Linked DNA regions of Homo sapiens. The main gene of each other region encodes a partner of the protein of the gene in region 2 in a complex. Each region holds a gene or a part of one and is shown on either strand. Other genes may lie near its edges. The genes, in order: TAF8 and TAF1.

Region 1 (3,827 bases), on a different chromosome or scaffold from region 2:
TAATGAGTAAATGAGGATGAAAAAAATTAGTTTTATGATTTATTAAGAGCAGCCAATGATGTTACATATGTTTGTGATGTACCATTTTCAACTATGAGAGCCATTAAAGTATCAAAATAAACTAATCTTAGATTCTGACCTCCAACTTACTATTCCATCAAGTATTAAACCAAGATTTCTAGGCTGGCATGGTAGCGTGTGCTTGTGGTCCTAGCTACTCTGCAGGCTGAGGTGGGAGGACTGCTTGAGCCCGGGAGTTCAAAGCTGTAGTGCCATGATTACACCACTGCACTCCAGCCTGGGCAACAGAGCGAGAACTCCACCTCTAAAAAAAGACTGAGCACAGTGGTGCATGCCTGTAATCCCAGCACTCTGGGAGGCCAAGGTGCAAAGACTACTTAAGGCTAGGAGTTCAAGACCAGCTTGAGCACCACAGAAAGACAAAAAACCTGTCCCCATCTCTATAAAATAACAACAACAACAAAACAAACAAGAACAACAAAACAAACAAAAACCCTATGATTTCAAAAAATAAAAAGCAGAGGCAATTGCTCCCGCTAGAAAAGGTTATAGGTTTCCTGAACATTTTAAAAGGGTAAGATTATCTTTTAATGTACATTATTTTGTACAATGTTACATTATAATATTCACATAAATAAGCAAACATATACTGGAGTATGTACCCATGCCTGGGTGAACTGCTTGCGCCCAGGAGTTTGAGACCAGCCTGGGCAACATGGCGATATCTTGTCTCTACAGAAGATACAAAAATTAGCTGGGCATGGTGGTGCACCCCTGTAGTCCCAGCTACTCGGGAGGTTGAGGTGGGAGGATCACTTGAGCCTAGAAGGTCGAGGCTGTGGTGAGCTGAGATCGCCCATTGCACTCCAGCAGCCTGGGCAACAAAGTGAGACCCTGTTTCAAAAAAAAATGTTACAGATAGGGATATACTATATAAAAGAGTTAAAGAATGTTATGGGTTGAACTGTGTCCCCACAAAAAAACATTTTTGATATGTCCTAGTACCTCACAATATGACCTTATTTGGAAATAGGGTCACTGCAGATGTAAGCACAGTGAAGATGAGGTCTTACTAAGGTAAGGTGGGTCCCTAGTGCAATATGACTAGTGTCCTCCTAAGAAGCTGGCCACAGGAAGACAGAGATAGAGAATGCCATGTGAACTTGGCATAGCTTTAGCCATAGCTTTTGTTAAAGGGAATGTAATTTTGTCTAGTTCAGAGGGTTTTAAAGATTGTCTTGGCCAGGCACGGTGGCTCATGCCTGTAATCCCAAAACTTTGGGAGGCCAAGGTAGGTGGATCACAAGGTCAGGAGTTCGAGACCAGCCTGGTCAATATGGTGAAACCCCATCTCTACTTAAGAAAAAAAAAAAAATTAGCCAGGCTTGGTGGCAGGCGCTTGTAGTCCCAGCCACTTGGGAGGCTGAGGCAGGAGAATCACTTGAACCCGGGAGGTGGTGGAGGTTGCAGTGAGCTGAGATCGCACCACTGCACTCCAGCCTGGCAACAGAGCAAGACTCTGTCTCAAAAAAAAAAAAAAAAAAAAAAAAGATTGTCTTAACCTAAAAGAGTAACAGAATCGAAACTGAAGATTTAAGCTAAGTAAAAAAGGTTTGTAAAGGGTTGATCGTGTAAAAATTCTGTGGGTATCAACAAGTTGGCTAAGATTTAAAAGAAATTATTTAGCTTTTTTCTGTAGGCTAAAACATTAAAATCATACTGATGTGGGGCCAGAATCTGGACCCACGTGTCTGAATAACAGGGTTTTCTTAGAAAATTGACCTACTGTTTGGTGGAAAATTGTAAAGGGTTCTAAAAAGTTTATGAAAATCTTACTGTATGGTCAAACTAATTAAAACTGGGTAGAGATATAAAATTTTATTTAAAAAACTAGCTTTAACATTAAAGATGCGCTAGTACAAATATGAAATTTGTTTTTCTCTTCTGAAGATGATTTTTATGTAATGTTAAAAGATAATGAAAGGGTTTTCTTTTCTCCTTTGGGTGAATGGCAGGGAAAAAAAAGAGGAGAGGGAGAGAAGAGACAGATTCAGTTGGCCTCATGCTATCTTCATCGAGTCTTGTTTGGAAAGCTAAGTCTCCTCTAACAGAGTAAAAGTTTTTCTTTACAAAAAAATTTTTTGGAGTTATCATTTTGGCTAAACGAATGACTTATGGTGACCTGGGATTCTATTTTGTGATATCCAGTGTTTTAAACCTTTGATATTTGACAAACTTTCCAAAATCCAATTAAAAATTATGTCTCTTTCTAACCTTTTAGATATTAGGTCCTCTAAAGCCCAAAAATGATTTGGCTTATCTGATACAAAATCATACAGGAGGCATTGTCAAATATGAAATGGTGTTTGGCTTTCTTTGGTCTATATTTGTATAAATGTTATTGGTATATGTTCCAAAATTACATAAAACTTCTATAATTCTAATATGACTTAGTGTATGTTATCAGTAATAATTATAATGATTATGTTAACAGATTGTGTGCCACAGAGGTAACAAATTTCCTTGCCAATTGTGCCTTTAACTGTGGCTGCCCTAAAATGTTTTTGTCATACACTTGTCTCATTTTGGTCCTCTTTAAAAGATGGTTTTATAATCAGCTATAAAATTTAACAGGTGCTAATAAATGCAGGTTTCTGATTAATAACTCTGGAGATTGTGACATTAGAATAGAGGAAAAACTTTCAAATAGAAGAGTGAATGGTGTTTGGTTTACTTTAGACTGTATTTGTATAAATATATTATTAGTATGTGTCCAAAATTATGGGAAACTTCTATAATGTTGATATAGTTTAGTGTACATTAATAATTATAATTGCTATGTAAAATTGTTGTATGCCACAGAAGTAACCAAAATTCCTAGTCAATTGTAGCTTTAATAGTGGCTATAGACTTTTGTCATCCACAGACATTTTATCTTGCTTTGGTCCTTTTCAAAATGCAGTTTATAATCAAATATAGGACTCTAAGTGCAGGTCTCAGATAACTTTAAGAACTGTGCTATTGGAATAGAGGAAAAAAACAAACTTCTAGGACTCTCACGGAGAGCTAATGTGTTAAACATTGCTAAACCTTTTGTTTTCAGAGTCAAGAGAAATTATTTCTTTAGAACTATTTGCAACTTTTATCATGTGAGTAAAATAAACTCCTGTGAACAAAATTTACAGCATATTGTTCCTCTCTACCTGATTTCTCCAGAATTTGGAAACTATTTGTGAATATTCTCAATTTATGGCAGTATAGCTAATTGCATAAGTGCAATAAGAATCTGTTTTCTTTTGTAACAGGCCACAGTTGGAGAAATTGGTTATTTTACCAAGGCTTTGACTGGAATGGCATGCTTTTTTTTAAAGAATCAAAGTTGACTTATATAGCCAATTAAAGCCCGTTGGGGAATCTGGCCTTATACCCCGTCCACACAGAGTCTCTGTACAAGGTTCCTGACCTGTGGTAAGTAAAGAATGTCACTTTCAAACAGGCTCAGGAACCCCAAGCTATCTTGGGACCTCAAGAGGAGACAAATTTGCCCAACTCATAGGTATTTGAGGGTACAAACCCATGGCTGGGCTCGGCTTTTAAAAAGTCTTATCTGAGATTCTTCATGGAACAGAGTTCTATCAAAGCCAATTTAAAAAGTCTAAGTGAAAAATAATTATTCTTGCTGCACTTTATGCAAATAATCGGGCCAAGTACAGTAAGACTAAAGTTTATTTTGTAAACAAATCAGTTGTATCATGATTTGTTTTTAATAAAAATGGGGACTGGAGAGAGAAAAATTATGCTTCAAA
Region 2 (3,402 bases):
GGAGTTTGAAACCAGCCTGGCCAACATGGCGAAACTCCGTCTCTACTAAAAATACAAAAATTAGCTGGGCATGATGGCAGGCGCCTGTAATCCCAGCTACTGAGGAGGCTGAGGCACAAGAATCGCTTGAACCCGGGAGGCGGATGTTGCAGTGAGCTGAGATCGTACCACTGCACTCCAGCCTACAAAAATCAGCCCGGTGTGGTGATGCGTGCCTGTAATCCCAGTTACTCAGGAGGCTGAAGCAGGAAAATCGCTTGAACCCGGGAGGTGGAGGTTGCAGTGAGCCGAGATCACACCACTGCACTCTAGCCTGGGCAACAGAGGGAGACTCCATCTAAAAAAACAAAACAAAAATAGGTGGCATGATAAATGTTAAAATGAACCAATGAATACCATGTACTCACCCAATCCCCCCAACCAAAATTCTGGAAGCCACCTTCCATTCCTCCTTCTCTACCCACAAATGCCAAGTCCTACTCCCTAAAGATCTCTCAAATCCATCCCCCTCCTCCCCATCCCAATGCCATAGCACCAGTTTGGGCTCCATTCTCTCTTACTTGAACTAGATCCATCCAAACCATTCTCCACACTACTGCTGGAATTTTTTAAAATTTTTATTACAAAAATAATACATACTGTAAAAAAATTCAAACAATATAGAAATAAAAGCACAATATCCCACCCAGCATACATAACAAACACAGAAGCCCCCTCCCCTCCAATCCCATTCCTGGGGGGTTATCATTGTGAACAGTTAGCATATATCCTTTCAGACTTTTACCTTTGCATACACAAGTATATATATAAACACATATAAACACACATGGTTCTTTTACAAAAATGCGATCACATATGTTACATGATTCTTCAATTTCTTTCTTCATTCATTCATTACACAGATTTCTAAAACACAAACCTGATTATATCACTCCTCTAAGAGCTTATTTCCCATAATATAAAAATCATACACATTAACATCAAACACAAAGCTTGTGATGATATACTTCCTGCCCATCTTTCAGTCTCATCTCAGCCCTTCCAGCATTAAAGGACTGGAATATAAACCACATTAAATCCTTCCTGGAACAAGGCAGGTACAAACAAACAAACAAACAAACTAGGAACACACTCTGCCATTTCTAGACTGTGGCCTTTCCCATTCATGTTACACTTTGCCTGGACTTTTCCATCTGGCAAGCTTCTACTAATTCTAAAACAATCAGCTTAAAAATTACCTCTAGGAAGACTTTCCTGACTTTTCAGACATGATTACTCCTCTATTTCCCCTATACTTTATAACTAGCTTCTTAATTGCACTTATCTCACAGTACTATGATGATTTATTAACATGTTTTGAATTCCACTTTCCCTCCCCCAACTTGATGGTGAGCTCTTTGGGTAAAAGGGATTTGTCTTATTTACCTTTGCATCCCAAGGATCTGATAGAGTGCTTATCATGAAAAGCAGATGCTCAGTAACATATCTGTTGAGGATTTTATGATTCTAGGAACATTTACTGAGTACCTACTATGCACAGAACCATATCCTAAGCATGAAAAGAAACAGAAGACACAGTCTTTGCCCTAAGAAACTTACCATTTTCCTACCATTTCCCCTGGGGAGGGTGGGGGGGACAGAAAACATTTAGGTGGCAACATTATCATTTCTGACATATAGGCTGTTTCAAAATTTACGGTAATTTGCCTCCAATCCATTTAGGAACTAGGCATTGCATAATTAAATAATAAAATAATGGGCGGTTTGTCTCACAGGTTTAAGTGTAGCACAGAGTCCACTAGAACCCAATTCTCTGTCCCAGCAGGAGGGCTCTCATCTGCTCCAGCCTGTAAATTAGAAAAGTGAGATGATACCATGCTTGGAAATTTTTTTTTTTTTGAGACTGAATCTCACTCTTTCGCCCAGGCTGGAGTGCAGTGGCGTGACCTCCACTCACTGCAACCTCTGCCTCCCGGGTTCAAGTAATTCTCCTGCCTCAGCCTCCCGAGTAGCTAGGATTAACAGGCATACGCCACCACACCTGGCTAATTTTTGTATTTTTAGTAGAGATGCGGTTTCGCCATGTTGGCCAAGCTGGTCTCGAACTTCTGACCTCAGGTGATCTGCCCGCCTCGGCCTCCCAGAGTGCTGAGATTACAGGTGTGAGCCACCACGCCTGGCCGGAAATTTCCTAATACATCAAGAGGACATAAAGTTACTAGTTCTTTCATAATTTCCCCTCCTTCCCCAGGGAAAAATTATACCAAAAGCAATAAATGGAGTTAAATAAAGGAGGACACGGAAAAATGAGCTTGCTCTTTTCCGTAGTGGTAGGGGAAAGGGGGTTGCTTTGTTTTAAATCAAAGGGTGACATTGCCCCAGGAAGATTAGGAGAGGTGATTTATTATCATTTACTTACTACTTTTAAAAAGGCTAAGGTGTTAGTTAATTTCATGATTTCAGGATCAGATACTGTACAAATATGAACAAATTGGGGAAAGGTGAACCACCTAGGCTGGAGAACAGGGAAGGCTGACCAAGGAGGCCCAAAGGAAGCCTCATTCATCAGAGTCCAAGTCACTGTCCCCAGCAATGGAGTGGAAATCCTCACTGTCCTCCTCGTCCTCTGACAGGTGGACCTGGCTTAGTACGCTCGGCCCAGAGCGCTGCTCTTCCTCCTCCTCATCTTCTTCCTCCTCTGATACCTCATACCCACCGATGCTGCTGAAGCTTGTGTCTTGGGTGTTCGACTTGGGATCAGGCTCCTCATAGCTCCCATAACTGAGAAGAGAAACATGTCATCTCTCAAGCTCGGACACCATCCTCTACCTGACCATTCCCATTCTCAGTGCCACCAAAGGATCAGCCCATCTCACCTCCCCTGGACACTAAAGTGACTGGTTCTGGACTATTCTACATGTCCCTGAGAGAAAAATGACCCTGTTCAAAAACATCAACTTGCCAACGTCATATACACAAGAACCTGAATGGAAGAAACTCCCTTACACCTGAACAACACACTGCCATCTTACATGACCATAAATGCTCTGACAGCCTCATGGTTTCATCTACCACTTACAGTATCCAATTAGTCAATAGTCCTGAAGATTCTCTCTTCAATATATCTTGTCTCTATCCCCTCCTTTCCATCCCTACTCTGCCTACCTTGGCTTAGTCCTTTGTTATCTCTGGCCTGCACTACTGAAATAAGTCGTCATGCCGCCAGTCTTGCTCTCCTCCAATTACTTCTTCACACTTCTGCCAGAGTGCTCTTTATTTTTTTGTTTGTTTGTTTATTCTTAATTTTACTTGAAAAAAAAATCACACAAGTAATGCACGTTCACTGGTTAAAAAAATTAGAATATACACCAGAAAAAAATTTAAAAAAATCAATAACTCCAT

The links.
Region 1: TAF1 (region 2) and TAF8 share a complex: the UniProt entries of both Homo sapiens proteins name them as parts of the TFIID basal transcription factor complex.

Annotation. Positions count from the first base shown.
Region 1 is NC_000006.12:42,060,274-42,064,100, reverse strand, and holds part of TAF8 (transcription initiation factor TFIID subunit 8), read right to left. Parts: intron 1-3,827. UniProt on the Homo sapiens protein: The TFIID basal transcription factor complex plays a major role in the initiation of RNA polymerase II (Pol II)-dependent transcription.
Region 2 is NC_000023.11:71,463,203-71,466,604, reverse strand, and holds the end of TAF1 (transcription initiation factor TFIID subunit 1), read right to left. Parts: intron 2,782-3,402; coding exon 2,559-2,781; 3' UTR 600-2,558; downstream 1-599. UniProt on the Homo sapiens protein: The TFIID basal transcription factor complex plays a major role in the initiation of RNA polymerase II (Pol II)-dependent transcription.